Linked DNA regions of Homo sapiens: regions 1 and 3 are each linked to region 2. Evidence: fine-mapped expression QTL. A gene starts in region 2. Each other region holds a variant in brackets. All regions are shown on one strand. Distances are between the middles of the regions. Region 1 holds the start of LOC105378574 (a long non-coding RNA gene). Region 2 holds the start of UTF1 (undifferentiated embryonic cell transcription factor 1). Region 3 has its middle 6.6 kb from the start of MIR202HG.

Evidence for each region. PIP is the estimated chance that this variant, and not a neighbour inherited with it, causes the effect.
Region 1: its variant is fine-mapped to the expression of UTF1 in blood mononuclear cells (TOPMed, PIP 0.92).
Region 3: its variant is fine-mapped to the expression of UTF1 in whole blood (TOPMed, PIP 0.96).

Annotation. Positions count from the first base shown.
Region 1 is chr10:133,192,215-133,200,219 of GRCh38, reverse strand. It overlaps KNDC1 (kinase non-catalytic C-lobe domain containing 1), which reads right to left. Exons shown (of 30, transcript NM_152643.8): 10 at 4,399-4,557; 11 at 3,085-3,162; 12 at 2,452-2,545; 13 at 1,721-1,883; 14 at 954-1,642; 15 at 618-762. LOC105378574 (a long non-coding RNA gene) reads left to right here and starts at 3,884. Exons shown (of 2, transcript XR_946511.3): 1 at 3,884-5,079; 2 at 5,219-5,733. LOC105378573 (a long non-coding RNA gene) reads left to right here. Exons shown (of 5, transcript XR_007062351.1): 5 at 2,946-3,024. RefSeq lists an enhancer at 1-617. The variant A/G (reference allele first, on the strand shown) is at 3,526.
Region 2 is chr10:133,226,527-133,234,531 of GRCh38, reverse strand. It overlaps UTF1 (undifferentiated embryonic cell transcription factor 1), which reads right to left and starts at 4,315. Exons shown (of 2, transcript NM_003577.3): 1 at 3,694-4,315; 2 at 2,974-3,565. The coding sequence starts at 4,243. The coding sequence ends at 3,090. RefSeq lists enhancers at 1,934-2,733, 3,534-4,333.
Region 3 is chr10:133,250,445-133,258,449 of GRCh38, reverse strand. No RefSeq gene overlaps it. Among named protein-coding and RNA genes, the nearest start is that of MIR202HG, 6.6 kb to the right of the region's middle. RefSeq lists an enhancer at 113-412. The variant T/C (reference allele first, on the strand shown) is at 4,899.

The DNA of each region.
Region 1 (8,005 bases), 34 kb after region 2:
CGACGGGATCCCTGGGTCATTCACTGCTTGGGGTCCCTGGGGGGACTCGGGAGCAGCCTCTCAGTGCTGCGGGGCCGAGGAGGCCGGGGCTGGGGTGGGTGCCCTTGCTCACAGCTGTGTTTACTCCACACGCACGCGGAGGAGCTGCCCGGGCTGCTGGCACCGCGTGGAGCTGTGAGCAAGGCAATGTGGGGTGGCCGCCGCCCCACCCAACACAGCTCAGTGCTGGGCCCTGTGGGGTCTGGGGCCACCTGTTTGGGAGTCTCTTCACCTCCTTGGGGCCCTCACACTGGTCCCTCTGAGCAGGGAGCCCTGTGGCCATCACTGCCCAGGCCCCCTGCAGCCTCCCGGAGAGCCCCTGCCTCATATTCTCTGAAAGCCCTTTCGTCCTCCAGAAGAAACCCAGGTCCGATGGGAAAGCTGTGAGTAGGCGTCAGGCCCAAGGAGGGGCTGCTGGGACCCCCACCCATCTCCACCAAGGGTAGCCCCTCTGGAGACAGCAGCGAGATGGAAGCGGAGGGTTGGGAGGGGAAGGCTGGGCCCGGGTCAGGCAGCAGAGCCCAGGCACAGTGGGCATCAGGGAGGGGCGGGAATGCAGGGCCGAACTGGGCACCCACCTTGGGGAGGGTGACGCCTGCCCGTTGACCACCTTAAAGAGGTTCTGCAGCAACTTCTCATCCCAGTACAGGTCACAGAACTTCTCGGAAATGGCGCCACAGAAAGTGGCAAAGGTGAGATCTTTCAAGGCGAAGATGTACTCCCCTGGTTTTGCAAAACGATGGAGACAAGTGAGATGGTGGCAGGGCTGCTCATCTGGTTCCCTTGTGGCTGATGAAACGGACAAGGCTGATCTCGGCTGGGGGGCTGGGGGAAGGGCGTGGGGCGGCCCCGAGTCCCCTGTGGGGCTCTCCCTGGCCCGGGCCTCCTCTGGGGCGTCTGCGGCCCCCACGTACCCATGATCAGAGCCTCCAGCCCATTGTCCAGGTAGCCATCGAAGGCAAATTCCTCCTGGATGAGGCGCGTGGCCTCCTGCAGCGACGGGCAGGCCGTCCTCCCTGGGAGTGGCGAGGCATCCACGCAGGGCAGACAGAGCCTCCGGTCTGCGGGCCGCGGCCTCTCTGGGACACTGTCTGGACTCTGGTCATCACGTTCCCCGGCAGGGGTGGCCCCGGGGCCCTCTGGCTCCTGGCCCGGGCGCTCGGTGGCCTTGCTTCGTGGGGGCTTGGGCGGGTGGCGTGGGCCGTGGTGGGCCGTGGTGGGCCCCAGGGCGTCGGGCCTGAGGCCCCCGGAAGCAACTCCAGGTGGGATCGGCTCAGCCGGCCCTTGCTCTACGGGCAGCGCAGATGCCTTCGTGGGCGGGGCGGGGACTGGAGAGCCGGGAGCTGCCGATGAGGCCCCCTCTGGCTGGTTTGCTGGGGCCTGGGGTGGAGGGCAGGGGCGGCCCTGGGCTGAGTCACGCTGCACTGACGCCCCAAGAGGCTCTGGGGCTGCTCCCTGTGGCCCCGGACCAGGCACCGGCCCGTCAGGCGTCTTCAGGCTGGGGGACCCAGCGTGGGCCTCCAGGGAGAGCTTCTCCTCACCTTCTCCCTCCCTCTGGCCGCCCCTCTCCTCGGACTCCTCCTGGGCCAAGGCAGGCTGGTCCCTACGGGAGGAGCAGAGCTCAGGAGGGGCTGCCTGCGCCCGGGACCCAGCAGCTCCGGGGTGTGGGGACGATGCTCACCTGGCCACACTTGCGTTCTGCGCGAGGACAATGGGCTTGAAGTGCGTGGCCTCGGAGGTGAACGCTGCAGGCAGCTGGGTGGCTTCTTCACCGCAGGGGTGCTGGCCGGGCACGGGCCCTGGCACAGCCACAAGCCCGGTGTCGCTGTTCACCGGCAGGAAGCCTGGGGAGCCAGGGGGCTGAGGGTGTGGGCGGGCGGAGTGGCCCCAGCACGTGCCGCACCACCGGCTCATCCCACCCAGTGCTCATCCCACCCAGTGCGTGGTGCCGCGTCCCCTCCCGCATGGCCCTGGGGGCTTCCTCTGTGCTGGGCCCTGGAATGGGAGGGTGGGTGAGACTGGTGCTTGGGGGAGGGCCAGCAGGCGGGGACGGGCCAGCAAGACCAGGCCCCACCAGAAGCCTTGGAGGGGCCTGCTGAGCAGGGCTCAGTACGGGGGTGGGGTGGGCTCTGTGTGGACTCTGGGGGTCTCCAGATGTGGGCTTGGGAGGGCCAGCTGCTGGGAGATGGGAGTGAGAACCTGGAGCTGGGGCCTGAGCGACTGGGAGTTTTGGGAGATGGGGGCTGGCAGGGGCAGGCAGGCTGGGCTGCATGGGCCACGTTGGCCGAGCTCTGGACTTGCTTCCCGGGTTTCCGAGAGGTGCCCGGCTGTGTCTGTCCATGCAGAGGTGGGGGCAGCTGTGGTGTCAGGTGCAGGAGCTGGTGGGGCAGCAGGGGCTGGTCAGGTCCCCACCTGGGCTGGGCTCTGGGGCTGGTGCCACACTGGGCTTCAGTTCAACCACTGAGAAGGCGTTTTGGAGGCTGATGGTCTCTTCCTCCTGGTACACCTGGGGAGGAGGTGACAGCCCTGGGCCAGGTGACCACGGAGCTCCGCCAGCGCCGGCAACACCCACAGGGCGTCCCCCACCACCCGCCGGTGCCGTGGAGCTTCCTGCTGGGGAGGAGCCGGGCATGGCGGCCACACGGCCCAAGCTCTGCAGCGGCTCTGCCTGGAGAGGGAGCCGTTGGGGCTCCTTTGCCTCCCAAGCCAACCAGGTTTCCGTGGGTTCCAGGGAGTGGGAGACGCCAGCACCACCCGAGACTCAGGGCCCACACTCCCAAAGCTCTCTGCGCCCGGGGTGGGTGCTGGGCCGCCGTCCTTGGGACCCTGCCCTGATCCTGATCTGGGTCCCTGGGGGCCACTGTGGGGCCTTTAGATGGGACTCGAGTGTCCCCCTGCACCCCCAGATGCACCCACCCACAGCTCGGTGGTCAACAGAGACCGGGGTGTGGGGCTGCCGGGAGCGGCCAGGCAAGGGCAAGTGCGTCCAGGAGGGAGGAAGCTAAGCGCGGCGGAGGAGGCGGCGGCCTGGCTGTTCTAGCCCACCTGGCAGATGGAAGCTCTGAGGTGGGCAAGGATTTTCCGGCTGTCCATGCCTCGCTGGAGGAGGTAGCTGCCGCACACCTGGAGGGAGGAGACAGTTCACACGTCCCGACAGGCCTCAGCCACGGCTGCACCGTCCCCGTGTCACTGGGTCCCCATCTGAAAAAGCTCAGGGCTGCCAGGAGGGTTTCCTGTTTGTTCTCACCGACACCCAACTACAGGCCCCGGACAAGCCTTTCTTAGAGCATTTCCTGAAAAGGGCTCACAGTCGGCCACTGTCCCCCAGGCTCCCTGGGAGGGCAGAATCCCAAACCCAGCGTTGGCCACAGACCTGGTAGCCTCGTCGCCTGGACACTGGCAGCCCTTGGTCACGTTCGCCTGAGCCCCACGCTCCCTGCCCCCGGCCACTCCTGTCCTCCCTTTATAAGCTCAGGCCTTGTGCAC[A/G]TGGGAACTGAGCTCAGCTTCCCCAGCTCTCAGTAGTTACTGAATAAAATCTGCTTTCACTGCTTGGCAGACGCCCAGCCGTGTCTAGATCTCATCCTCCTGCAGCAGAGGAGGCCTGAGAGGCCCACAGGGTCTGAGCAACCCGCCCAAGACCACAGAGCAGTCGAGGCGGAGACGGCTGGACCCAGGTCCCCAACCCCATGGCCGTCTCCGCTCCCCCAGACACGGCTCCTCCCCAGGAGGTCCTCCTGATCACCCACACCCAGCTCGGCTCCTCCCCAGGAGGTCCTCCTGATCACTGACACATGAGAGTTTGGCTCCTGCCCCACCTGCTGGTCCACCCGCTGGTCCCCATGCCGGGTGCGGGTGCAGGTCCCAGCAGGAGTACGTTAGAACCCAGCCCCAAAGCTTGAGTCCAGCAGGGAGACCAGGCAGGGAGGGGCGGGGCTGGTGGGATCCTCAGAGGAGGTGGGGGTTCGGGGTGGGGGGTGAGGTGTGGAGGCCTCTCTCTGCTCCCCTCCAGCAGGGCCTAAGAGCAGGGGTCTGCACGTGCCCACAGGACACCCCTTGCCCCCGCCCTGGCCTCTTGGACAAGCTGGAGAGAGCGGGCTCCGCAGGAGGAACGGCCATGGTGGGGAGCAGCAGAGACCCCCATGCTGTCCACCCACATGGACGTGGCCATGACGCGAAACCCACTCCCTTCCCCATGCGACGGCCAGGCCGACGTCTAGAAACAGGGACCTAGAAACAGACCTGGTGGCCTCATCACCTGGACACTGGCAGCCCGTGCTCCTCCACCCCCAGCTCAGCGAGGGCGGCCACTGCCCACAGTCCTTGGACCCTGGGCTGGGGCCATGACTGTGGTGTGGTTACCTTGATGGCCTCAGCCGCGGACGGCCGCTCCGGGGCACTGCGCCTGGCCATGTCCAGGAGGAGGGTCTTGAGCCTGCGTGGCAGGGCCAGCTTGTGGTTGCGGGGGACGCTGAACTTGGCTGCGGTCCACAGAACGGCGGCCACACAGTACACAGAGGCCTGGGCGGGTGGGGAGAGAATAGTGTCTACCGCAGGGCTGTGGGCTGCTGTGCCCAGCAGACCTGCCCACCTCAGGCACCCTGAGGGGCACCCAGGCACTGCCCCCACAGAGGGGCTCTCCTCAAGACCCCTCCTCAGCATCTATCAGGCCCCACCCTGGACCCCTGCATCCGCCTCCAGGTCGTGGTCCAGGAACCTGCAGGTCGAACTCTCCCCCATGGTTCTGTCCGCGTTTTAAACACCAGAGGGTTGGAAGCCTCAACTGGACTTTCCCACCTTCCACTCTCCTCACGAAGGCAGCAGCTCGAGGGTTTGAGGAGAACTGGCCAGCATAGCCCCCACCTCACGGACCCGGGAGCCCCCCGACTGGTGCCTGCTCCCGGAAGCCCCCCGACTGGTGCCGTGCTGCTACATGGCTAACAACTGGCTCTCCGAGCGAACACACCGCCTGTGTGCAAACTGAGTTCATCCGGCACGTTGCTGATGTAAGGGATGCACAGCACACCATTTGATGCACGTTTTGTAAGTTCCACAGAGCCAGTCAATTCTCACTGAAGGCTTTCATTGATAAAAATCAATGAAACCCATGTTCATCCACAGTCCACCACAATACACGAGTGCTGCTGACATGAGTGTTGGTTGATGTTTTCATTCATTTCAGTAAATGAGATGGAAGTGAAGCCGGACAGACCCATGCTGGAATTCGGGGCACCCCTCTGAGCGACGTCTTTGCTGAATCAGATGGTCGCGGTTGATATCGTAAGACCATGTCCTCCACCTTTTGGGCTATTCTCAAGGGAGCGGCCACAGACATGACACACTTTTAAGTTTAATCACATCATCCACGTGTTCTCCATCACTTCAGTAAGTCCAGAGAGTCAACAGAACAAGACATTTGTAGCGTTTGCTGCTTTCCCTGGTGTAAGTACTCCCACGTGGCTGACTTCTGGCTACCAATGCAGTGCCCTTGAGTGTGGAGCTGGGAAGAGGCAGCTCCCCTTTACAGAGTCTCCCCCATCCAGGCACAGCAGACGCAGACAGCCCCACGAGCATAGAACAGCCAACTAGAGTCAGATAAGTAGGAAATCACCCATTTTGAGCACTTGTTACACTTTTAAAAAATTAACCTTTTATTTTGTGATAATTGTACATAGTTTTAATAAATAATAGAGCTCATGTACTTTGTACCCAGTTTCCACAACAGTAGCAGCTTGCAAAATACTGATACTGATATAGTCCAGTATCTCAGCCAGCACATCGCCATTGGCACAAAAATCCTGGTTCGCCATATGTTGCATTTTCATTTTCACTCAGTTCTATATGTTTTTAAAATTTCCTTGAAATTTTCTCTTTGACACATAGAGTATTTAGAATGTGTTGTTTCGTTTCCAAGTGTTTGGAAAATTTCCCTTTTATTTTTGTTACTGTGGTCAGAGAACACATTTGTATGACTTAAATTCTTTTAAATTTGTTGAGGTTTGCGTTATGGCTCAGGATTTGGTCTAGCTTGGTGTATAGTCAGTGGGGCAACTGAGAAGAATGTGGATTCTGCTGTTGTTGGGTGGAGTGTCCTTTAAATGTTGATCCAGCCGTGTTGATTGACAGTGTTGTTGAGTTCCTTCATATTTTTACTGGTTTACAGTCTGATTGTTCTATCAAGTGTTCAGAGAGGGGAAACTGGCATCTCCAACTATAATTGTGGATTCATCTGTGTCTCTATTAATTCTATCAGTTTTGCTTCACATATTCTGCAGCTCTGTTATTTGGTGCATATATGTTTAGGATTGCTATGTCTTCTGGGCGGACTGACCCTTTATTGTTATAGAATGTCCCTCTTTATCTCTGGTAATTTTCTTTGCTCTGAAGTACACTTAACCTGATATTAATGCAGTCACTTCTGCTTTCTTTTTATCATTTTCATAATGTATCTTTTTCAACTCTTTTAACTTTCAACCTACTTATATTGTTTTATTTGAAGTGAGTTTCTGGTAGACAGTACATGGTTAGGTCATGTTTCTAAACATTACTCTGTCAATCTTCTTCCTTTCTTCTTCTCTTCCTCCTTCCTTCTCCTTTTTCCTTCTTCTTGTTCTTCTTCCTTCCTTCTTTCTTCCTTCTTCCTCCTTTATTTATTTAAGAGACAGGGTCTCGCTCTTGTCGCCCTGGCTGGAGTGCAATGGCTGTATCTGGGCTCACTGCAGCCTCCACCTCCCAGATTCCAGTGATTCTTCTGCCTCAGCCTCCCAAGTAGCTGGGATTACAGGCACCCACCACCATGCCTGGCAAATTTTTGTATTTTTAGTAGATACAGGGTTTCGTCATCTTGGCCAGGCTGGTCTCAAACTCCTGACCTCAGGTGATCCACCTGCCTCAGCCTCCCAAAGTGTTGGGATTACAGGCCTGAGCCACTGCACCTAGCCTGTTTCCTTAATTTCTGAAGGATATTTTTGCTGGAAATAGGTTTCTGGGTTGAAAGTTCTTTCAGAACTTAAAAAAATGCTATGCACTTCCTCTACAGTTACTGATGAGAAATCTGATCATCTGAACTGTTTTCCCCCCCCATATGTGTATATATGTAAGCTGCTGTTTCTCTCTCTTTTTGTTTTTTATTTTTATTTTTATTTTTTCGGAGAGGGGAGGGTTAGTATTCAGAGGTTTGACTATGATGTGTCCTGGTGTGGATTTCTTTGCATTGATCATGTTTGGGGTTTTCTCACCTTCTGAAATCTGTAGGCTTATGTGTCTTGCCAAAATTTGGAAGTTTTCAGCCATTATTTCTTTGAGTACTTTTTATGCACCACCCTCCTTCTCTTCTCTTTCCAGGATTTTGATGACATGGATATTAGATCTTTTATTATAGTCCCACAAGCTTCTCAGGCTCTGTTCAGTTCTTTTGGTCTATTTTCTCTTTGTTGTCCAAACTGTGTAATTTCTATTGTCTCCATTTCACCAATTCTTTCCTCTGCCCTCTCTATTCTGCTATTAAGCCCATTCATTGAGTTTTTTTAAAAAATCAGCTCTAAAATTTCCATTAGCTTTTTCTTTTTCTTTTCTATTCCTTGGTTGAAACTTTGTATTTCTTTGCTGAAACTTTTTCATTTGTTTCAAGCGTGTTTGCAATTGCCCAATGACGCATTTTTATGATGGTTGCTTTAAAAATTTTAAAGTCACTTTTAAAATTTCTGTCATCTCCAGGTTGGTATCATTGGTTGCCTGTTTTCATTCAGTTTGACATCTTCCTGATTCTTGGTATCATGAGTCCTTCCCCATTGCTTGATTTTGTCAGCTCTGTCAAAGATCAGATGATTGTAGGCGTGCAGCCTTATTTCTGGGCTCTCTATTCTCTTCCATTGGTCTATGTGTTTTTGTACCAGTGCCATGCTGTTTGGGTTACTGTGGCCTTGTAGTATAGTTTGAAGTTGGGTAACGTGATGCCTCTGGCTTTGTT
Region 2 (8,005 bases):
ATCCCAGCACTTCGGGAGGCCAAGGTGGTCGGGTCACCTGAGATTGGGAGTTCGAGACCAGCCTGACCAGCATGGTGAAACCCTGTCTCTACTAAAATACAAAATTAGCCAGGCGTGGTGATACATGCCTGTAATCCCAGCTATTCGGGAGGCTGAGACAGGAGAATCGCTTGAATCCAGGAGGCGGAGGTTGTGGTGAGCCAAGATCGCACCATTGCACTCCAGCCTGGGCAACAAGAGCCAGACTCCATCTAAAAAAAAAAAGGTAACGCTAAACCAACTGTGCTCAGACACTGGCCCCATTAAACAGCACACAGGAGGCTAATCCTGCCATGCCTACAGAGCGCCTTACTTATTTTGGAGACAGGCTTTCACTGTTGCCCAGGCCGGAGCGCCTCATGTGATCACAGCTCACTGCAGCCTCGATCTCCAGGGCCCAAGTGATCCTCCTGCCTGAGCCTCCAGTGAAGCTGGGACTGCAGGTGCGTGCCACCATGTCCAGTTAATTTTTGTGTATTTTGTAGAGATGGGATTTTATCATGTTGGCCAGGCTGGTCTCAAACTCCTGAGCTCAAGTAATTCTCCTGCCTCAGCCTCCCAAAGTGCTGGTATTACAGGCATGAGCCACCGCATCTGGCCCCTAGATTGATTTAAACAGCCAAAATACACTCTCTGCACCAGATTAGAAAGCATTAGAGGTCCGGGGCCCATGTATTCAGATTCATTATTCTGATACCGGGCTCAGGAGGATCATAGCACGTGGCCCCTGCCCCACTACCTGAGTAGGAAGGCAGATTAATTCTGCTTGGTGCCCCTAAATTGCTCCAGCCCAGAGATGGGTCCTTCCTCCAGGGCCGAGTGTCCAGTAACCCGAGTGATAGAGCGGCACAGCCCCCACCCTTAGGGTGCTGGTGTGTTTGCTGGGATGTGGCTGTCTGGACCTGGGCTTGCTGTCAGCAGTAACCTTCTGGAGCGACAGGGTCATGTAGGGTGCACCTAAGCTCTGTTTCAGACCCCACTGTGGCCTCAGCCTGTGACTCTGACCTTTGGGGGCTGTGTATGTGAGGGGGAATGTTTGCAAGCTTGGCTCATCCAACAGGCTTTTAGCAGCTTGAAGATTCTCAGGAAACACAGCAGGGTGGAGCTGATGTGAGACGGGGTCTCACCATGTTGCCCATGCTGGTTTGGAATGCCTGAGCTCAAAGTGATCTTTCCGCCCAGGCCTCCCAAAGTGTTGATATTATAGGCGTGAGCCACCTAGCCTGGCCTAGGGTGTCTATTTTTTTTTTTTTTTTTTGAGACGGAGTCTCGCTCTGTCACCCAGGCTGGAGTGCAGTGCACAACCTCCACTTCCCAGGTTCAAGCGATTCTCCTGCCTCCTCCTGCCTCAGCCTCCCGAGTAGCTGGGATTACAGGCTCACGCCACCATGCCTAATTTTTGCATTTTTAGTAGAGATGGGGTTTTACCATGTTGGTTAGGCTGGTCTCAAACTCCTGACCTCGTTTGTGATCTGCCCGCCTCTGGCCTCCCAAAGACCTGGGATTACAGGCGTGAGCCACCGCGTCTGCCTTCAGAGTGTTTTTTTGTTTTTTGAGACAGAGTCTCTGTTGCCCAGGCTGGTGTGCAGTGGCGCAATCTTGGCTCACTGCAACCTCCGCCTCCTGGGTTCAGCACTTCTCCTGCCTCAGCCTCCCGAGTAACTGGGACTACAGGCACCCGCCACCACACCCGGCTAATTTTTGTATTTTTAGTAGAGATGGGGTTTCACCATGTTGCCCAGGCTGGTCTCGAACTCCTGAGCGAGCTCAGGCAATCCACCCACCTCAGCCTCCCAAAGTGTTAGGATTACAGGCGTGAGCCACAGCGTCCGGCGCCTCAGTTTCTTAAATGAGGTGAGGCTTGGAGTCAGTTCTTGCAGGCGTGGTCTCACAGGCCTCCCCCTCAGACCTGGGCAAGCCGTTCATTTCCCCAGGAGCAGCCTTTAGCACTAGCGGGAACTATTCTTCTGGATACCCAGAAAAGCATGTGCAGGAGGGGCTGCAACCATACCACCCACAGGGAACCCCTCAGGACTGCTGGGTGCTGGGCCAGCGGGGACCCCCCCAGCCCCATTTAGCTGCATGGCCCTGGGCAAACCACTTGTCTTTCTGGATGGGCCCACTAATTTGCAGGCATTGTTATGCTAGCGGAACTCCTCCAGGCTACATTTGTATCTCCGGCTCCAGCCAATCCCTCTTCTGACTCAGGGGTCCAGGGTGGGGCCCTCTATTGCTACTTGGAAAATGCTTCCTGGGCAGGTTTGCTTCGGTTTTCTCAAAATTGCAAGGACCCTGCCCTCAGCCTCTGCCCAAGGATCACACCCCAGACGCTCAGCGCCTCCCTAGGCCCACCCAGACCAGAGCCACCTCCCTGGAGACAAAACCAGCATCCTCCCTGGAGCTCTGTGGCTTCTCTTCCCCTTTTGTTTCCCAGGACCTGGGAGAGTTCAGCCGGGTGGTCCAAGGCTGCCCGAGGCCATGGGAGGACCTTCGGAACCCCCCATGCTACTCCTGGGTCAAAGGGGGTTCTCTGCTGGGCAGTGTGGAGGCGACCACTCTAACCCCTACCCCTGCATTGAGTGAAGAGGTGGGGTCAGCCTCAGGTTCTCTCCGGACCCCCAGCGGAGCCCACCCGTTCACTTCGTTTTACTCAGTGGGGCTCCCCGGGAGGGGCAGGGAGAGTCTGGTGTGGCCTTGAGAACCGAGTGTGTGACCAGGACCCGGCAGCAGGCACCACGCCCACCACCCTCGAGCCTGGCCTCCTCGGCCTACATTTGGGTGCGCCCCACGGAGCTCTGTCTACACCTTAGGAGCGAGTGGGAGCCCCTCTCTGTGATGAGAGCGTCGCAACCCTGCCCTGACCTTTGCAGCCCCAGCACTGCAGGGCGCCACTCCCTCCCCGTCTCCAGACCCGCACTCCTACACAGCCCGGACTCTAGGAAAACAATCCTTTTATTGAACATACCCAAGAACGGGGGTGGGAAGGCAGCAGGAGGGGTCAGGGCGGAGGGGCCTCGGCCTGGAGAGGGGAGACTGGCCGCAGCCGGGACTCACTGGCACGGGTCCCTGAGGACCCCTCGCTCGGCGGCCGCGCTGCCCAGAATGAAGCCCACGGCCAGGGACACTGTCTGGTCGAAGGCGCCGCGCAGCTGCTCCACGTGCTGGTTCAAGGTCAGCAGCTGGTCGCGCAGCGGGCCCAGGATGTTCGCGATGTCGCCCAGGTGCCCCAGGGTCTGCAGCAGGGCGGTGTTCAGCGACGGGGGCGCGGCCGGAGGGGGCGCGCAGTCCTCGGGGCGGCCGGGCGGCGAGTCGGGGTCTTCGCGGGCCGGGGGTGGCGGCGGGGACCCGGGGCCGCGGACGGGCGCGCGGTCCTCGGGGATGCAGGTGGCGAGGGCGGTCGGGGCGGGAGCTGGCGGGGAGCCGGGGGCGGGGGAGGCGTCCGCAGACTTCGGTGGGGACGGGCTGAAGCGGAGCGTCCAGGTGGGGTCCGCGTCGCGGTCGCGGGCGGTGGGCAGCGGGGTGGCGTCTGGGAACGCGGAGCAGGCGGTCGGGCGGATTTTCGCGGGGCGCGCCCGCCCCTCCCCCGCAGCCCTCGGCAGCCCCCGGTTCCTCCGCAGTCCTCGGCCCCACCTGGCCCCCCAGTCCCCCGCCTACCTGGTTCGCTGGGAGCCGGCGCGTGCGCGTTGGGGACCGGGCGGCGGGCGCGCTGGGGGCGCCCGGACCCCGGGGAGCGGCGGCGAGGCCGTTTGCGCCCGTTGTCGCCCAGCAGCCCCATGAGCTTCCGGATCTGCTCGTCGAAGGGCCCGGGCGGCTGGCCGTGCGCCTCGCGAAACTTGTCTTTAAGGAACTTGTAGCGGCGGCGGCACTGCGCGGGGGTGCGGCGCACCTGCTGCTGGGCCAGCGCGGCCGACACGCGGCGGTAGGTGGGCAGGGCCTGGCGGCGGTCCAGGAGCAGCGCGCGCCACACGGCCGGTTGCAGCAGCGTCCCCAGCAGCAGCTCCGTCTCCCGGGCGCTCCAGGGCGTGCGCTGCGCCGAGCCCGGGGACACCGGCAACCCGAGTTCCCCCAGCGCGCTGGGCGAGGCGGGCCTCCGGGGCGGGGTCCCCGGGGCGTCTCCGGGTGTCCGCGGCTCGGGGTCGGGGCTGGCGGGCGAGGGCGGCGCGGGGGGCGCGAGCGGGGGCGGCCTGCGGGGCCGGAGCAGCATCCCGGGGCTGGGGCGCGGCGCGCGAGGATGGGGAGAGGGCCAGACGCCGCCCGGGCCGCCCACACGCGTTCTGAGCATCCCGCGCCGCCGTCCCTCCGTCCCAGCCGGGTCTACGCGACCCTCCCACCATCCCCGCCCCGCCCCGCGCGCCCCGCCCCGCCCGCCGGGTCCTAAGGGGTCGGTCCTGGCGCTGCGGCCGGGAAGACGCAGAGCAAAGACTGGCTTCGGTTGGAAACGGAGGGTCCTCAGGAGTTCTGTTCTTAGACCCGTTCAACGGAGGTGCCGCGATGCCTAAGCCCCGGCGGCTCCGCTCGTTTTTAGCCTGTGCCGAGCCTACCCCCGCCCCCGTCGAGGTGTGTGCGGAGCCCCTCCCGCTCCGGAAGGCGCTGGCGCCCCCTTGTCCGGCCCCCAGTGCTGCCCCCGCCCCCGCCGCCCCCGCCCGGGCTCAGCACCTGCACGCGAGGGGTCCGGAGGACCGACCCGGGTCCCAGGGGGAGTCGCCAGGCCAGGGGATGGGTCCGAGGAGAAGCCACGCCAGCCGCGGGAATGGGTGTCGGAATTCACGCGCTCGCAGAAGTAGCTTTTAAAATCTGAACTTCTTCCATCTGCAGCGCGTCTGCAGCCAGCATCCCTGGGAGGAGGAAATTCTCTTCCTATTAAATGCTCTTCCTCCTTGCCGCACGGCGCCGAGTCCTTCTGTCTCCTGGGTCTCCTCTGGGCCGTGGCAGCTTCTCGCGTCCTCGACACGGTTGAGGACGGGCCAGGTGTTTTGTTGAATGTTCCTCGACTTGGGTTTGCCTGGTGTCTTCCTGTGATCCGACTAGGGTGGTGGGTTTTAGGAAGGAAGGCGCAGGGGTGGAGTCTCGCCCCTCCTGTCTTGTGGCTCAGCACCGGTGAGGTCTGCTCCGTGCTGGGGTGCGGACTGTCTGCCACTCTTGCAGTCTTCAGGTATCGCCTTTCCATCCCTGCTCTGGTCACTGGAATCCGGCCCCTCAGCCCATCCCCAACTCATGGGGAGAGTAATTAGGCCCCACCTCCTGGAGGGGTGTCTGTATTTTCTGGGATTCTTCTGTAAGGTTTGTCTCTCTGCCTGTTGATTTATTTACTCAGTCATTTATTTCTACAGTGTGGGCTCGTGTATATTTATTTTATCCTTTAGGTCATAACCCGATGCTGTTATTATTTATTTGTTTTAAAAGTTCTGTTTGTTTTTATTATTTTTTACAAATGGGGTCTCTTTCTGTCACTCAGGCTGGAGTGCAGTGGCCTGATCACAGCTCACTGTAGCCTTGAACTCTTGGGCCCAAGTGATCCTCCAGCCTCAGCTTCCTTGGTAGCTGGGACTACATGTGTGCACCACCACACGCACCTAGTTTTTTTTTTTTTTTTTTACTTTTTGTAGGGACAGGGTCTTGCTATGTTGCCTAGGCTCGTCTTGAACTCCTGGGCTCAAGTGATCCTCCTGCCTGGGCCTCCCAATGTGCTGAGATTACAGGAGTGAGCCCCTGTGCCGGGCTTTTATTTGTATTTTTGCGCATATCGTTCCTGCTTTGGCCATTGAAAGTCTTCTCACCTCCTCCTCTCTTCCTTGTCCTTTTGAAACCCCCTCCCAGCTCCCTGGCAATACAGGATGCTCCTGCCTCATCTGGTCCTTTGCCGACCCTGGTCCTAGAATCAGCTTTTCAGACACTTCTCAAGAAATCTGTGGTTCCTGGCCAGGCACTCATACACGGGGCTCACACCTGTATTCCTAGCACTTTGGGAGGCTGAGGTGGGCAGATCTCCTGAGGCCAGGAGTTTGAGACTGACCTGGGCAATATAGTGAGACCCCCATCTCTGCAAAAAAATAAAAAATAGCCGAGTGTAGTAGCAGGTGCCTGTAGTTCCAGCTACTTGGGAGGCTGAGGCGGGAGGATGTCCTTTTGCTCAGGAGGTTAAGCCTGCAGTGTACCGTGATGACCTGACTGCACTCCTGCCTGGGTGACAGGGCAAGACTCTGTCTTAAAAAGAAAAGGGGGGCGTGCAGGCGTGGTGGCTGTAATCCCAGCACTTTGGGAGGCTGAGGCAGGCGGATCACCTGAGGTCAGGAGTCTGAGACCAGCCTGGCCAACATGGTGAAACCCCATCTCTACTAAAAATACAAAAATTAGCGAGGCGTTGGATGTGCACCTGTAATCCCAGCTTCTAGGGAGGCTGAGGCAGGAGAATTGCTTGAACCTGGGAGGTGGATCTAAAAAAAAAAAAAAGGCTGGGCGCGTGGCTCAAGCCTGTTGACACCCAGCACTTTGGGGGGCCGAGGCGGGCGGATCACGAGGTCAGGAGATTGAGACCATCCTGGCTAACACAGTGAAACCCGTCTCTACTAAAAATACAAAAAATTAGCTGGGTGTCGTGGCATGTGTCTGTAGTCCCAGCTACTCAGGAGGCTGAGGCAGGAGAATCGCTTGAACCCAAGAGGTGGAGGTTGCAGTGAGCCAAGATCGCACCACTGCATTCCAGCCTAGGTGACGGAGTGAGACTCTGTCTCAAAAAAAAAAAAAAGATTTTTAATAACTGAGGGTTGGGGGTGCTGGGGGCATCTGATGGGTGGAGATCAGAGATGATGGTGCACAGGACGCCAGCGCAGACTGTCTAGCCCACAGTGGCACTGCAGTGCACAGCACAGCCTGCCTTGAACCCGTCTGGGACAGAGCCGGGGAGTGGATGGCGGCGTGGGGGACAGAGCCGGGGAGTGGATGGCGGCGTGGGGGACAGAGCCGGGGAGTGGATGGCGGCGTGGGGGACAGAGCCGGGGAGTGGATGGCGCCGAGAAGCGAGGCTCATGAGGTTGCTGGCTGTCAGCTCTCTAAGAGAAAAGTCCTGTGCTCAGCGGAGCTGAATTTATTGGAGCCACTGCAGTGAGGGGTCCGGCCTGCATGGCGTGGGGGCGAGGACGCACACATGACCAGGACCAGGGCCCCCTGTCTCGGGCAGCTCCTGTCCAGCACAATTGGACTCCACCATCTTGTCTTCTCGGCTTCTCCTGGGCCTCCCTCCAGGCGGATAACCGCACCGTTCATCACGGGAACTTCCCGAAAGACCCATCAGCTCTTTTCCCAAAAGCATCCACAGTTTACAACCCCAAAACCATTGGAAGCCCTGGCTGTGAGCCCCTCCCTGAGTGGTGTCCACCAGTCTTACCCTGTGACAACCGTGAGAGTGTCCTTTCCCGGGCCACAAGCCCCACCTGCAGGAGCTCCCCGTCCTGGCCTCCTGCTCCACTGTGGTCAGAGTTACGGCGAGCTTGCACCGTGATGACGGGGGACCCAGCTCTGTCTTGCCCACAGGGCTGCCAGGTGGGAACTGGCTGGGTTGGGCAGAGTTTAGCGCAGATTGACCCAAGAACAGCCGTGGGTCTGTGCAAATAGCCTGTAAGAACTGATGGACAGACGCCCGTCCTGATCTTGGATGAAGACACTGCACATCCAGCATGAGGGACGTCCTTTTTGTCAATGGAGGGCGAGCCTGGATGTGCGCACACAGGAGCGTGGTTACGGGAGTCCGTTCTTTTAGGCTGTTTGCAGTCACAACCAGAAGCAAGTGTTTCCTGCCCCAGCCGGTGCGTTTGCTTGTTCCCACGGCCTGGGAGTGCTGGCGGTAGCTTTCCTCCTGGCGGGGCCTGAGTTGTGACACACGTCTGGCAGGCCCGGGCCTTTCTCTGCGGCATCAGAGGGCGTCGCTGTGGACCGGCAGATTCGTTTTCAGTCCTGGGTTGAGCACATC
Region 3 (8,005 bases), 24 kb before region 2:
CCACCGCTCAGCTCCAGGTGCCCCCACAGGCTCATGCACACACAAACAGGGCTGCCTGCCACCTGCGAGGAACCTGCTCTCTCCAGGGACTCAGAAACAGGCGCCAGGCCAGAGACACACCACAGCCAGAAAGGCAGGTATCAGGAGCCAGCGGGTGCTTGGTGCCTGGAGGCCACACCCCAGACACCCACAGGCAGGGCCGGCTCACCCGCCGGAAGACAGGCCCAGGAGGCCCTCTGCAGGGTCCCCAGGATGACCAGGGCCCTGGTGGCATGAGGCTGGTGGAGGGTGTTGAAGCCAGGAACCCTCTCGATGGAGTATGGACCCCATCCTGGCTGGAGGAGAGGTTGTCAGGGCGGGGCTGGCCCTTGGGAGGCACCACAACCCCTGTGCAGGGTACCCCAACCGGGGAGAAGCCACCAGGCCACGCTGGAGTGGGAGCCAGGACCTCAGCGCCAGGTCCCCACCGCGTCTGCCGTGCCCACCCCTAGAGGGTGCTGAATCCTGGCCCCTCCCAGCTCTGGGTGTGTGGTGGGGAGGAGCTGCTTCTCTCCGTCCTCACCCGGCCTTGCCCTCGGCCAGCAAAGACCGCAGAGGAGAGTGAGACCCTTGGGAGCTCCCTGGGCTCAGGGGTTCTGAGTGCCTGTGCTGGGACCTTGGACGGCCAAGACACCGCTTGACTTCCACCTTCTGTCCTCTGGCGCCCGCCTGCACCTGGTCCTCTGCCTGCCCACGCGGCCAGCTAGAAAGCGCGCGCCCTCCAGTGGGAAGGAGAGCAAGGAGTAAAACGTCCCGCCAGGGAGTGGGGAGTGTCAGGAAATTAGGAGGAAGTGTCGGGGCTGCGGCTTGCCGGGATGTAGGAGCACAGGCCCTGGGGCAGAGGAGGGGCGGGGGGAGCCGTGAGAGGCCCGGAGGGAGCAGGGGAGGTGGAGAGGAGCTTTCCCCAGTGGAGCTGGCAGGAAGAGTCCCAGGTGCAAGGAGCGCATTTTAGAATTCCAGGACTCGGGAGGAAACCTGCAGGATGAGGGCTCCCCTTGGGGGCGGCCTGCATTTCTCAGCGGGAAGGTGGGTGTGGGTGCCCCTCACATCACCTGGCGTTTATTTTTGCATGTGTGAAATATAACAACAATTTCCTAGGGGAAAACACCCTAGGGTGCACAAAAGTTGTAAAAATGGGAACATATGGTCCGAAACTCACTGCTGAATAATGTGCTGTCATGAAATTTACTTCAAAAACCCCCTCACGGAGTACAATCTTGGGTAGATGAAGGAGAAAAAAAGTAAAAATGAATTTAAAAATCTCTTAAAGCTTCTGTTTTTTGTTTTTTATTTTTGAGACAGATCTGGCTCTGCTGCCCAGGCCGGAGAACAGCTCACTGCAGCTGGAGCCGTTCTCCCACCTCAGCCTCCGGCACGTGCCACCACGCCCAGCTAATTCTTTTCTTTTCCTTTTTTTTTTTTTTTTTTTTTGAGACAGGGGTCTCACTCTGTTGCCCAGACTAGAGTGTAGTGGCACAATCTCAGCTCACTGCAACCTCCACCTCCTGGGTTGAAACGATTCTCCTGCCTCAGCCTCCCAAGTAGCTGAGATTACAGGCGCCCGCCACCACGCCCGGCTAATTTTTGTATTTTAGTAGAGACGGGGTTTCACCATATTGGCCAGGCTGCTCTCAAACTCCTGACCTCAGGTGATCCGCCCGCCTCTACCTCCCAAACTGTTGGGATTACAGGCGTCAGCCACTGCGCCTTGCGTAATTCTTTTCATTTTTTGTAGCAATGGGGGTCTCACTGTGTTGCCCAGGCTGGTCTTGAACTCCTGGGCTCAAGTGATCCTCCTGCCTCTGCTTCCCACAGTGCTGGGATTACAGGTGTGAGCCACTGCGCCTGGCCAGCTTCTTTAGATCAAGCTGTAAATAACTTCAAATAGTAAATTAGTAGAGCAGACACGACTGACTAAAATTATTAGCAATGAAAGCACAAAGGAGTAAGCAGGGGAGGCCACCCTGAGCACGTCTGGACGGCTCGCGTGGGGAGTCCACGCTCAGAGCACCCCACAGGTGTGCAGGAACCGGCATGATCCACAGTGATCGCCTTTGGTGGCAAAACTTATTTCTTTTCTGCAGTACTCACAATTCTCCATCATAACAATGTGTCGTTTTACAAGCAGGAATAAATGAAAACAATGGCTGTTCAAAGCTTGCTGGAGAGAGGCGGCGGCAAAGCTCTGCTGCTCCCCGTGTTTCTGGAATCTGTTGACAATTGTATCTGCGCTTCTCACAGATTCTGAGAAGGACACGTATGTTTAACAAATATATATAACTTCCTCAGAGAGCCACTGAAGGCCAGGTGCGGTGGCTCATGCCTGTAAACCCAGCACTTTGAGAGGCCGAGGTGGGCGGATCACCTGAGCTCAGGAGTTCACGACCAGCCTGGGCAACACAGCCAAATCCCGTCTCTACAAAAAATACAAAACTTGGCCCGGCATGGTGCCCGTAGTCCCCTCTACTTGGGAGGCTGAGGTGGGAGGATCGCTTGGGCCTGGGAGGTGGAGGCTGCAGTGAGTCGAGATTGCACCCCTGTACTCCAGCCTGGGCCACAGAGTGAGACCCTGAAATAAAGAAAAGCTGTGGACGTGGCTGAATCGTGTGCACCGCTGACCCCCAGCATGTGGGCCTCACCCACCATCCACGCGACGCCCTCGCCAGGAAAAACAGAGCCATGTGACCGGGGAGGGTTGATGGGGGTGTCCAGAGGCCAGAGTGCCCTGGCAGGGTGGCCCCCACCCCATCTGTCCCTGGAGGTCTTTGTCTCCTTCTGTGCTGAACTCCACCCTCCAACAGCTCCCCGTGGCTGCCCAAGCAGGGGTGGCGGGGTGTCAAGGAGGGTGGGCGGCGGGACCGCGGGGCAGAGGGGCTGTGCATCCTGGGTAATCCCACCCTCGCCCTGGGTGGCCACCAAGCGGTGCCGGCAGCTGGACCTGGGTGCGGAGTGTGGAGCCGAGTTCACCTGCCTTTTTGTGGCTCCCAGAGGAACACGCAGAGACCCAACTGAGGCCAGCCTAACTGGGGCTGCTGAGGGTCAGCCCCGGCATCGGCTCGGGGCACCAAGGACCCAAGGAGACTGAGCAGGGACTGCAGCCGCTCAGCGGGGGTTGGAGGTGGCAGAGCCCTCCTCAGCCTGGGGGAGCTCAGCCCTGTCCTCAGTGAGAAAGACCCCCAGCCCCTGGCAGCGGACGGCAGTGACCACACAAGGGCTTGAGACCTGGGACTGGGACCTGGGCCGAGTGTGGGGTCCAGACCCAGGTGGTGGAGAAAGGGGTAGGCTCTGCAAGTGTGTGTGTGTGCATGTAGTGTGCTTTGTATGAGTGTGGGGTGTGTGTGTGTAGTACTAAACACATCATGTGACGTGTATATGTGTGTGGTGTGTGTCTACATGTGGTGTGGTGTGTGGGGTATGTATATATGTGGTGTGTACATGTGTGGTGTGTACAGGTGGGATGTGTATATATATGTGGTGTGCACATGTGTGGTGTGTGGGGTGTGTATTTGTGGTGTGTATGTGTGTGGTGTGTAGGTGTGTGGTGTGTGGGGTGTGTATATATATGTGTAGTGTGTACATGTGTGGTGTGTGTGTTGGGTGGCACGTGTGCACATGAGACACGGGGTCCAGCCCGGTGGCCCCAGCTCCTGGCCAGGCAATCCCAGGGGACAAAGGCTCCTGGACAAAATGGCTTTGGCCCCTTCCGCCCGCCGTGGCCTTGGAGGGCAGAGGAAAGTTCTCATGGCCCAGCGAGTGCTCCTGATATGTGGGTGTGCACAGGAGAAGAGAAAGAAAATATCAAGAAGCCGTGATTATCTCCTCTGAGGGAGTCACAGACACGCAGCCTTGAAACGCCAGCCCTGAGCTTAGGGCAGGGCTCTCCCAGGGCCGGGGATTAACTCTTTGCTTCCCTCTCCCTCCGGGGCTGGGGGCTGCCTATGGTGGCTCAGCTGAGCCCCTGGCCCACCAGCCCCTTGAGACCATCCCAGACCCTGCCAGGAGCCAGGCGGTGATCAGCCTCTGGGCACAGGCCCAGCCCTCCATCTCCCCTACAGCCGGCCTGGAGCACAGATTCCAGGGCCTGGCTCCCAAGGGGACATCCCATGGGGTCCCAGAGCCTCAGGAGCCTCAGGGCCCGGTCACTCAGCTGCACTGCCCTCCACACATGATCTGGGGCAGCCCCAGCACGCCTCAGGTCCTCAGTCTGACCTGGATCCCGGGAGCCCCCTGAAGACAGACGAACCGACCTGGGTCCTGGTCACTGCTCCAAGCTCATGCCCTCTCCATAAACTCGGTGTGGGGCCACCAGACGTAGCAAGTAAAAATTCAGGACACACAATTAATTCAAATTTCAGTGAAACAATGAAAACTTACAGTGTGAATGCATCCTAAATATTTCATGGGACATATTTATCCTAAGAAATGGTCCGTGTTCTTCCGAGACGCACATCTGACCCTGGGCCCCGTGTTATTCTGACCAGGGCATCCCAGGGTCAGCCGACCACCGCAGAGCGGGCACCCCCACGGCTCCGCCGCACAGCCCCAAGTTTTATTTCTATTTTATTTATTTTTTGCGGAATAAACAGTCTCAAGTGCACAAGCCCAGGGCTCTGGCAAATGCGTCCAGTGCGTAACTACCTCATCCTCAGGCCACGGAACATTCTACCGGGGGGGCCCTGTCACCCCACGTGGTTTGGCCTGCTCTGGGGAGGCCCGAGACCCTGTGTGTCTGCTTCTTTCTTGTACAGTCATCATGATTTTTTATCCATTTCTGTGTGGATGAAGGAGACTTGGGGACTTGGAGTGGTTCCTGTTTGAAGACCTTCTCCTTCTCCTTCTCCTTCTCTTCTTCTTCTTTT[T/C]TTTTTTATATGGAGTTTCACTCTTGTTACCCAGACTGGAGTGCAATGGCGCAATCCCGGCTCACCGCAACCTCTGTCTCCCGGTTTCAAGCGATTCTCCTGCCCCAGCCTCCCGAGTAGCTGGGATTACAGGTGCCCACTACCACGCCTGGCTAATTTTGTATTTTTAGTAGAGACGGGGTTTCTCCATGTTGGTCAGGCTGTCAGGCTGGTCTCGAACTCCCGACCTCAGGTGATCTGCCTGCCTCAGACTCCCAAAGTGCTGGGATTACAGGCGTGAGCCACCATGCCCAGCCTTCTTTTTTTTTTTTTGAGACAGGGCCTCGCTCTGTCACCCAGGCTGGAGTGCCTTGGACCATCACAGCTCACTGCAGCCTCGAACTCCTGGGTCAGATGATCCTCCCGCCTCAGAGTCTCGCATAGTTGGGACCACAGGTGCATCCACCACACACAACTAGTTTATTTTTTAATTTTTTGTAGAGACAAGGTCTCACCATGTTTCCCAGGCTGGTCTCAAACTCCTGGGCTCAATCAATCCTCCTGCCTCAGGCTCCCAAAGTGTTGGGATTACAGGCGTGAGCCACCCACCGCACCCGTCCCAGAATGTTCTTATTGAAGTCTTTCTGGGGACGGATGATTTCATTCCTCTTTGTAAATGCTTAGGAGTGGAATTGCCAGGTCACACGGTGGACACAGGTTTCATTTGTAAGACTCTGTCCATCTCCGAGGGAACTCTATTTCCAGCACCTCCTTTGACAGGTGGGGAAACTGAGTCCAGGAGCGGTCAGCTTTGCTCTAGGCCTCGGCTGCTTCTCTGGGGTAGCCATTGACATCGCCCGGCCTGCAACTCAGGGGTCGGTGGGACCAGCACATAACCTGAGGGAAGTGCTGACTCCCGGGACACTGGACCTATGGGGTGGGGGCTGCAGGGCAGGGTCAGGAGCAGAGTGGGACAGGGTGCAGGGCAGGACAGGGTGCAGAGAGGGATGGGGTACAGGGCAGGACGGGGTGCAGGGCAGGACGGGGTGCAGGGAGAGCTGGGGTGCAGGGAGGGATAGGGTGCAGGGCGGGCCGGGGTGCAGGGTGGGCTGGGGTGCAGGGTGGGGCGGGGTGCAGGGCGGGCTGGGGTGCAGGGAGGGATGGGGTGCAGGGCGGGCCGGGGTGCAGAGCGGGGCACGGTGGGGTGCAGGGTGGGATAGGGCAAGATGAGGTGTGGGGCAGGACGGGCTGCTGGGCAGGGTTGGGCCCAGCCTCAGGGTGTGGCCAGTGTAGACTGAGGTCTCCACATGCGATGCAGGAGGAGCAGGCCACCCTCTTTGGGAACTTCAGCAGGGAGAGTCCACCAAGGGTTAACAGTGGGCTGCCTTTGGCCAGAGACAGCTGCAGGGACACCCCCGCCACCCGCCTCCACCGGGCCCCACAAGGAATGGAATGGAGGGAGTGGAGCCGCCTGAAGGCCACCCGTTATCACCGCCAGCTCCGTGCCAAGCACGTCTGCCAGACCCACAGAGATCCTTTCTGTTTCTGGTGGAGGGAGGGAGGGTGGCCGGTGTGTTTGGTGTGGAGGGGCTGCTATTGGGGTCTGAGGCACCCAGGGAGTGTCTGGACCCACAGCAGGGCCCCTGCCCAGGTGGTCATCCTGACCCCTGCTGATGGGGGAAGGACCAGGACACAGTCCCCGGCTGGTGCTGGCTGGACTGCTGAGGCCTTCTCGGGGTTGGCGGTGCAGCAGGAGGCCCCGGGATGGTGGGAAGGATGCCCGGGTGGGGCTCCTCTGCTTTCAGGCCCTTCCACCCCTACTCTGCAAATCTCCGGCAGGAGGTCCCCAGGATGGGTGGGAGCCAGGCTGTGCGGCCTCCAGTGGGTGAGGTGGGTCCCTGTCCTCCTGCTCACAGGCTGGGTTTCATTCAAAGCACTGGGGAGCCACAGGGAGCTCGGGACGGGGGCAGGTGTGTGGGGTGTGCCTGTCGGGAAGCCTGGGGTCCACCTGCGGGTGGTCCCTCGGCCCTCAGGGGCTGGGGTTTGCTCTGAGTCCCTCCCGTCACCTCACAGAATCCCCTGAGGGGTCTCAGGACCTCCAGGGCTCGTAGCCAGGATGGCCAGGCGACACTGACACCTGGTCCCTCGGCTGCCGCCCCTCTGACCAGTTCCACCCGGCAGCCCGAGCCCAAGACAGCACAAGACAGAGAGACAGAGACAGCGGGGAAGCAGGGAGACAGAGACAGAGAGACACACACAGAGAGACAGAGACAGCAGGGAGGCTCTGGGCTATTCTAGGGCATCGCCCAGTCCCTCACTTGGTTTCCCTAACTTTTTTCTGGATTATAAACCCACACCTGCTGATCAGGAAGACTTTCATCATCCACACGGGTTTAAAGGGGCTTCCAGGGACCGGAGGGTCGGGCTGCGCACAGGTGTGAGGACGGCCACCCTCTGCCCACTGCCTGGCCCACAGCCTTCTGTGGCTCCTTGAGGCCTAGGGGGAAACAGAGGGGGGTCTGGGCCCCCACCCAGTTGTCACCCCAGCTCCCAGGCTCCAGCCGATGGGGCCAGCAGGAAGACGGGCCCTGGGCTCCTCCACCTGCAGAGGCAGCAGAGGGTGGCCGTCCCCACACCTGTGCGCAGCCCGACCCTCCGGTCCCTGGAAGCCCCTTTAAACCCGTGTGGATGATGAAAGTCTTCCTGATCAGCAGGTGTGGGTTTATAATCCAGAAAAAAGTTAGGGAAACCAAGTGAGGGACTGGGCGATGCCCTAGAATAGCCCAGAGCCTCCCTGCTGTCTCTGTCTCTCTGTGTGTGTCTCTCTGTCTCTGTCTCCCTGCTTCCCCGCTGTCTCTGTCTCTCTGTATGTGTCTCTCTGTGTGTGTCTGTCTGTCTCCCTGCTCTTTCTCTCTGTATGTGTCTCTCTGTCTCTGCCTCTCTGTCTCCCCACTGTCTCTGTGTCTCTGTCTCTATCTCCCTACTCTCTGTCTCCCCACTGTCTCTGTCTCTTTGTTTGTCTCTTTGTCTCTGTGTCTTTGTCTCTCGGTCTCTGTCTCCCCACTGTGTCTCTCTATCTCTGTCCGTGTCTCTCTCTCTTTGTCTCTCTGTGTCTGTCTCTCTCTCTG